Regions from separate parts of the Homo sapiens genome. Here all the other regions are linked to region 2. Evidence: fine-mapped expression QTL. A gene starts in region 2. Each other region holds a variant in brackets. All regions are shown on one strand. Distances are between the middles of the regions. Region 1 overlaps ARL14EP-DT (ARL14EP divergent transcript). Region 2 holds the start of ARL14EP (ARF like GTPase 14 effector protein). Region 3 overlaps LOC102723403 (a long non-coding RNA gene).

The links. PIP is the estimated chance that this variant, and not a neighbour inherited with it, causes the effect.
Region 1: its variant is the best candidate, but not a certain one, in a credible set for the expression of ARL14EP in monocytes after LPS (Kim-Hellmuth 2017, PIP 0.83).
Region 3: its variant is the best candidate, but not a certain one, in a credible set for the expression of ARL14EP in substantia nigra (GTEx, PIP 0.73).

The regions. Positions count from the first base shown.
Region 1 is chr11:30,278,678-30,281,444 of GRCh38, forward strand. All of the region lies in intron 1 of ARL14EP-DT (ARL14EP divergent transcript), which reads right to left. Among named protein-coding and RNA genes, the nearest start is that of ARL14EP-DT, 43 kb to the right of the region's middle. The variant G/C (reference allele first, on the strand shown) is at 1,051.
Region 2 is chr11:30,321,917-30,324,683 of GRCh38, forward strand. It overlaps ARL14EP (ARF like GTPase 14 effector protein), which reads left to right and starts at 1,188. Exons shown (of 4, transcript NM_152316.3): 1 at 1,188-1,286. It overlaps ARL14EP-DT (ARL14EP divergent transcript), which reads right to left and starts at 1,030. Exons shown (of 2, transcript NR_187437.1): 1 at 1,002-1,030. RefSeq lists enhancers at 850-1,455, 968-1,217 and a silencer at 1,288-1,417.
Region 3 is chr11:30,355,683-30,358,449 of GRCh38, forward strand. It overlaps LOC102723403 (a long non-coding RNA gene), which reads right to left. Exons shown (of 4, transcript XR_001748162.1): 4 at 1-1,219. Among named protein-coding and RNA genes, the nearest start is that of ARL14EP, 34 kb to the left of the region's middle. The variant C/A (reference allele first, on the strand shown) is at 1,330.

The sequences.
Region 1 (2,767 bases), 43 kb before region 2:
TTTATAGTACACATTACACAAAAATTTTCTTTAACGTATTCACAAGTTATAAGAATCAAGGGTAAGATAAGTAAACTAATAAAGAATAAACAAAAATATGAACAGATAATTTATAGTAAAATAAAAATAATGGCCAATATTTTTGGCCAAAAAATAGGCTGAGGAAAAATTTTATATTCATAATTAAAGAAATATAAATGAAAATAAGATGTTAGTTTCACCCACTAACTAAAAGTTTTAAAAGGTTTTAAAGTTTAACAATGACTAATGCTGACACTGTTGCTAGATATGTAAATTTACACATTTTAGAGGCAATTTGTGATATCTTCCAACATTTAAAGTGTGTTTACCCTTTCCCCTCTCACCTCTCAATTAATTGCAAGGAATTTACCTACATCCACACTTGCAAAAATTCATCCAGATAGATGTACAGGATATTTATTGGAGCTAAAAATGAAAACAACAAACGCTTTTTCAACACTCTAGTTCTTATTAAATAAAATATGACATCTCCAGACTATGGAATACTATGTAGTCCATGATACAAGGGGAAAGATCTATATTAGCTAATAACGGAAGGATGGCCAAGCCATATTACTGAGTTGCAAAATCAAGAGCAGAATAATGTGTAAGTATACTCTTTTTGTGTGAATGAAAAAATAGAAATATTTTATATACAGACAATGAACACATAATTTCTTTTCTGGAAGGAAACATGAGAAACTAATATGGTAGGTCCACATGTTCAAGAGACTATAAGTCATTTAGAACCTTTCCATACTGTTTGACTGTGCTTTCTATAAGCATGTCATACTTTATTTTCTATGTCATAGGCATTACGGGTCATTTCCTAAAATACACTTTTTCATATCATTAAAAATAAACAATGTTATTTAACATTTAAAAGTGACAAGTCAATTATTTGGAGCTCCACGTTATCACACGTTCTAATTTCTATTTCCAGCTGATTATGGGGAGGAACGAACACAGGTGGGATTTTCCGTTAGTAAAGAAATGGTAATCTCAAGTTCTCTCTGTCTCTCTCTCTCT[G/C]TGTGTGTGTGTGTGTGTGTGTGTGTGTGTGTGTGTGTGTGTGTGTGTGTTGGTATCTCTCTCTCTCTCTCTCTGTCTCTCTTTCCCCTCAAGAAAATAACTCAGAATTTTACTTCAAGAATGAAGAAAAGCTACTAGACTGTCTTTAGCAGGGGACTGATGTGATCAGATTTACTCTCTTAAGGGATTCCCTTAGCTGTTTGGAGAGAATAAACTTATAGAGTATATTAGTCAGGGTTCTCCTGAGAAACAGAATCCACAGGGTGTGTGTGTGCATGTGTGCATATGTGCATAAGGAGACTTCTAAGAAATTGGCTCTGAAAGTTACAGAGGCTGAGATGTCCCAACAACTATAGTCAATATGGTGGAGACCCAAAAGAACTGATGTTATAATTCCAGTCCAAAGCCAGCGGGCTTTAGACCCAAGAAGAACTGACGTTTCAGGTCAAGTCCAAAGGCTGAAGAAAACCAATGTCCCATCTCAAAGCAGTTAGGCAGGTGTGTATCCTCTTACTCATGAGAATATTCCCCTTTTTCTTCTACTCAGACTGTCAACTGATTGGATGAGGCCCACCTACATTAGGGATGGATGGTAGTCTGCTTTACTCAATCTACTGGGTCCAGTGTTAATCTCATCTAAAAACACCCTCACAGATACAGCCAAAATAATGTCTAACAAATATCTGGGCACCCCATGGCCTAGTGAAGTTGACATAAAATTAACTATCACACAAGGCAAGAATGAAAACGAGTAGACCAGTGAGGAGGTTCTTGCCATTTTCCAGGCAAGAGAGGATGATGGCTTTGACTTGGGTTGTAGCCATGGAAGTGGTGGAAAGTATTAGGATTCAGAAAACAACCTTAGAGTAAAATCAACAAAAATTGTTATTATTGTTCTGTTGTTACTGTTATCATTTTGGTAACAATAAATAATAATAACTAATAGTTAACCTTATTTTTAGTAGGGCTCAGGCACTTTTCCAAATGCTTTATATGTATTATTTCATTTGATCTTCTCAAACAAGGAAACTGAGGCACTGAAATTTTTAATAACTTGCCCAAGGCCACACAGTTAATCAATGAAAGTGTATGACCCCCGCTGCACTAAGAGCAGCTTCTTTTGTTTACTTTCCTTTGTATGGGGAGTGGGAGGGTGATGATAAAGTAGAAATCAAGAATTTGGTTTAAGACATGTTAAAATTAAGATGCTATTAGATATCCAAAGACACATAAAAGTCTAGACTTCAGAGAACACACTGGCCCTGGAAACATAAATTTGAAAAATACCTAAGTGGTATTTAAAGCTAAGGGATTGAATTAAGTGACCTAGGAAATAAACATAGAGAAGAAAAGAGGTAGAGGGACTGAGCCTAGGGAACCCCAACAGTTAGAGGTCAGAAAGATGAGGATGATCCCAGAAATGCAACTGAGAGCCAACAATACTTCAAGTAGAAAAAAAAGCCATAAGCATGGAGTATCCTAGAGGCCACATGTTCCAAGAAAGAGACCACTTGTGTCAAATGCTAAGAGGCTGACAGGAGTGACCACTGTATCTGCAACCTAGAGTTCTTGGGTATCCTAGCAAAAAAATTTACATTTTTTAGTTGTGGAATATTGCACATCATATAAAATTTATCATAGCATCACTGAATTTTATAAAGCTTATATTTCTTGCTTATAGACAATCTATAAACAGAAGAAAACTTCATAGTTTGTT
Region 2 (2,767 bases):
TTTAGGATAGCTTGCCTAGTTTACTAGGAAGTCACAATTGCATCAAATTAAGTTCCATGCAGGCATTAATCTCCTCCCAGAACGCTCCTGCTTTAGCCCCTATCATTTTATCCTGTTTATATCCATGTGTTTCTGTTATGACACTTTTCACACCACACTGTGATTAACTGTTTATTCCTCTCTCACTAGTCTGTGAGCTCCTTGGAAGCAGAAATAAATTTTGTTTTTGTCTAATCATTGCTTAACAAAGTGCCAACCACAAAGTAAACAGTAAAAGAATTACAGAATGCAACCTCCTGCAGACACAGTTGAAGAAACTATTCATTGTTTTTTCCTTTCTGTCATTCCCTAGTTCTAGGCATCAAATCGCTTGCCTAGTCGGCGAGCAGTATGAAAGTGGTGGGAGGACCATAGACGCACTGCAGAAAACAGCTTACAGTAGATGCAGAGAATTACTAGCACGCTTGGGCCTTGGTGGGGCTTGTCTTATTTACCTGTTCCTCATTTTTCACTGGGAGTTTAAAACAAGTTTTTGTTTCCCTGCTATCCCGACCTTAAGATAATTAAAAGGCCAAGAATCTTTAAGAGACTTTCAGTTCTCCTGGATTCTAGATAATAAAACCCACTTTAAAAATTAATGAGCACCTATACTGTGACAGACAATAAGGATACAATAAAAATACCATTTCTGTTCTGAGAAAATTTACAAGCATCTTCCTGGAGCCTACATTTTACTCGAAGTAATAGCTATTTTTATAGCTTACAATAAAAGATGCATTTTGGAATATATTTCGCTTGAATTAAAGAAATAGAATGTGAGACCTTAAACAAAGGGTCCGTTCTTCAGATCCTTTTAACTCACACTCTCCTTCAGGGGTCGGGGTATTTGGGTGCAAAAGTTTACTATCACGCACAGGTGTAGAGATGTACAAATACGATCCAATTTAGTGGAAACTGTGTCTTGTAAGAGATGGCCCCCAGGGACCTCCCACATCCCTAACCTCTCGGAGGACTGCAAAAGACAGCATCTGAAGCACCTCTTGCCTCGCCTTGAATCATTTGCCACTTCACACCGCCCCGCCCCTTCCGTCCCCGGAGGCGGCCAGCCTCGTGTCCGCTCTAGGCTTCTCCCGGACGTCTCTTTGTGGTGGCGTTGAGCTCCTCTAGCCCGCGCTTGCCGTCCTCTCAGTGGTAGCGCGGGGACTGGCTGGGAAGCGGTCGGTCGAGTGTGGCCTGTGTGGACTCGCATCTTGCCCGAAGCCGGGCGGAGGAGAGCTCAAGCTAAGGTGGAAGGGGAACGGGGGAGGCCCTGGAGAGGAGTGGGAGAGTGGAGACAGGCCCCTGGGTGGCGAGGGAGCCCGGCGGCGTAACGGGGGAACCCGGGGAGAGGTGGAAGAGGAGGCCCGCACACGTGAGGGGGATTTCCAGCTGCTGGCCGGGGCCTCTCACCCCTACCCCCGCGTAGTTCATCTGCGACGCAACGCCTTGTGTCAAAGCCCAGCACAGGTTCTGCCGCCTCTGACCTCTCTGAGGGTCGTCGCCTGTCCTGTAGGCCCAGGACCTTCAAAGCTACGATTTTGACGTGAACTACTTAGGGTTATTGTGGCCTTGAACTCCGTAGACAGCCTTTATCTCTGCTATTTTTGTTTTTAATTTTTCAAATCAGAATCCTTTCAACCCTGGCCGTTTGAGGCCAAAGGCTAATGTTTATTTTTCCATCCCGGTACCATGAACTTAGTAGGTGCCCACTGGACGGATCTGGTGGTTTTAGTCATTTGTAAATAGCCGTGAACTAAGGAAGAAATGTATGTGGCCTCTTACAGGGTTGGGTTGGGAATCATTGCAGGGTTTGGGGGCACTCTGTTAGGCATGATAACAACAGCTCTAGGCTTGAGTTTCTTCATCTGTAAATGAGAATGATAGTACTTTCCTCAGGGTGGCTATGAAGGTTCCTGAAATGATGTTTGCCCTAAGCACTGTACCTGGCATGTCCTGACTACCACACTTGAACCAAATCTTTTCAATGGTGTTATGGACTATATTTTTGTTTTAAATTGCCTTTACCTTTCTTATTGTACCTAGATCTTCCTGAGGATTGAGACTCTCCTCTTTGCCTTTGGGCCAATTGTCATGTTATAGGTAATCAGTATTTGAAGATGACAGGCACAAAAAGTTCACAGTTGCAGGATGCGTGACTTTTGTAGGCGTATGTACCCATAACTAAAGCTCCTGATTTGGGGAGTAGGGGTAGATTAAATTATATTTTTATTAAATAAGAGATAATCTGGGAAGACGCTGTGTAAGTTGTAAGACCCTATGCCAAGAAAAGCCTTTAATTTTTTTCATAAAACATTTCATGAAAACTTTTTTTATGTTTTTCATAAAAGAGACATCAGTTGACCTAAAAACGAAGTAAATTTTTTGTTTTGTTAAATTTCCTCTAAATGTTACTTTTCCCACTAATAAGGAGACTGGTAACAAACTAAAAAACTATGTTAAGGGAAATTAACATATTGGAACGGGTATTTCTGCATCTCCCCTACAAATTTAGGAAGAAAAAGTGAGTTCCCTAATTAATCCTCAATTCCCTCTGCTGTTGTTTTGTTAGTGGCTGTTTTGCTGTTTTGTTAGTGGTGGGGGGGGTGTTCTGCATTAACACCCCGAAACCCCTGTGATAATGTCCTAGACCTTGCAAGCATCATGGCCGCGTGTGAGTTTTCTCAGCTTCCTCAACCTAATCTACCTTCCTTACCGTTTGGTAATGGGC
Region 3 (2,767 bases), 34 kb after region 2:
CAGAAATCATTGTAGCCATTTTAGAGACTGCCTAACACATGCTCCAAATGAAAATTACACCTTCAAGATGCCTAGGGTAAAATAGAGGTAAGTTTATGATTTTTCAGTTTTTAAGGAAAAGTGTTTTTTATATTAAGCATAAAGGATTATTCATCCAAAAATCATAGCTGGATGCTTGTTTGATATTTTGAAGCCACTGTGCAAAGTGGACACATATCCCAAAGGAATAGATCTGTGATTCTGCCATCCATCTCTCCCTCTCCTCAAAGCATACTAATTTCAGTTTGATTTTTTTTTTCCATCTGAAGTGAAAGTCTTGCCTTCCAGACAAAACCAGTGAATGACACTGCCTGCATGTCAGAAATTGCAACTGACATTTCAATTTTGCTTAATTTTTTTTCTTTCTTTGATAGTATTATGGTGAAAATTTACATTTGAATAAAAAGCAAATAGTGCATGTCAGAGTAAGCATCAGGGAATGTCAAATTGTTTTTTTCCAATTACAACTCTATTTCAAATAGGGTAATGAAATTAAAGGATAATTACTAGAAGCACAAAGCCAAGGTTACGATCAGAAATGGTTACCCTTTCACTTTAAGTCCTGTCTTGCTAAATAAAATATTCCTGAGGGGGAAGTTACTGTTTGCAAATAAAATACACTCATCCAGGACCACCCAAACACTTGACAATGTTGACCAAAACACCTATTTGTGCGTAAATACAAGTGTTTAAAAGAGATGAAAGGACACTAAAGGTAAGCTGCATTTTCCTTGGCTTTATCACTCTGATTAATAATGTGATAAATTAGCTGTAGGATGCAATATTAATTAACAGTATATTAGTTGCATTTTATTGCCAATAATATAACAAGCTCTGAAATAGTAGTCAGACTAAACTGCTGACACGGGCTTTTCTGCAAACTGAGCTGTAGTTTGATTTCTCATTTGTCCAAGTGAAGCATCAGCAACTGAGTAAAACCAATTACCTCAAAGCCCACCAAGCCCTCGGCAGCAACTTAGTGCATCTAAGCTTTGCCCAAATGTTATTACTTTCAAATTAGAGGCTGGTCTGAAATGGGCCATCGAAGAATTTCTACTGCTGAAAATAATTCAATATGGCAGTCCAGTTGTGGAACACTTTTCAGGGCCAAATAGAAACAAAGCTCCTTCCAATTTTGACACATCTTGAATCCATGGCTGTCCACTTCTGGAAGGCAAGCCTGGAAGTACAGAAGTCAGATATGAAAAGGGAGGCATTTTCCTGCCTTTTATGTTTATTTTTGAGATGAAGTCCTGGGATGGAGGTGGGGGACACTTTAGGAAAAAGGAC[C/A]CAAGGTCAAGGATGAAAACAAATAAAGACACTCACCTAATGGGAGTTATCTCACCTCACTAGGTAAAGAGAAACTACAGCACAAGAGTTCATCAAGTACAGAGATATGTTGTTGAGTGAACACTTGGCCAAAGGTATTAAAACAAGTAGGGCAGATGCATTATAAGTACCTGAAGAAATCTCTGTTTATATTTATTCATTTGTCTCACCCATAGACCTTCACTTGCTATACTCTTTCTTCTTTCTTTCTCTTTCTTTCTTTTCTTTCTTTCTTCTTTTTCTCTCTCTCTCTGTCACACAAACATATACAAAATCACTTTCGATCCTCTTATCTTGCTTAATATCTTTCATGGAACTTATTACTATCCAAAATTAAATTTCAGACAGTTTATCCATTCATTTACTTCTCTGTTCCTGTATTCCCACCAAACTGTACACTCCATGAGGTCAGGAGGTGTGTCTGTGCACTGCAGAATAGTGCTTGGCATGTAACAGGCACAAAATTAGTTGAATCAAAGAATGAACCCATTCACTGAACTTACATTTACAAAATGCCCAATGTCTAAGTGCGAAGGATTCAAAGATGATGATAATCATAACTACCATTCACTGAAGGAGCCCTCAATGAGCTAAAAGCTTTACATACAGTATTTTATTTGAATCCCTCAACAACCCTTTGAATCATGTGTTTCTATTTTCTTTCTTTCTTTTTTGCAAATGAAGACATAGAGGCTCACAGAGACTGACTTATTACCACCAAGCTAGAAAGAGGTAAAACTATAAATTAAACCGGGTTTGTCTGGCCCTGACTCCAGGAATTGTCATATTCAAAGATTAATAAGAGACAAACATCCTCCCTGAGAACCTCAAAGTCTCATGCTTTGGATTTGAAGCATCATTGTCTTAGAGGATCCTCCTAATATTCTGTGGCTGGAGAAAGAATCTGACAATAATTCCTGGAGAACTGGAGTTGGGACATTTGCCATCCTGGGGCCTTCAGGAATGTCCTTGTCCATGGCAGGATCTGGTATGCCATGCTACTTTCCCTTTGGTGAGGTCAGATTCTGCTGTAGAGGTTTGCCAGGGCTACCCATATTCTCATATCCTTGGCTCCAGGTCTGCATATGAGCCCAGCAGCTGTCAGGGATCCTATTTACTTTTAATAAATCTAACAAATGAATGATAAATAAGTGGTGATTCGTCTGCCTCAGAAAATCCAGCAAGGGCAGGACCCAGCCAGGTGCATGGGAAGCTAAACTCTTTTCCAGCCTTCACAACTGAATTTTAAATTGCCAACACCAAGCTCCAAAGTCAGTTCAGACCCACAAAGTTTCTATGTATTTTAGAAGTCACAGAACTACCCCTCTCTCTGGTCTCTTGGAATAAAAGAAAGTTCCTCAGCCTATTCATTCCATGAATTAAAAAAAAAAAAAAGATT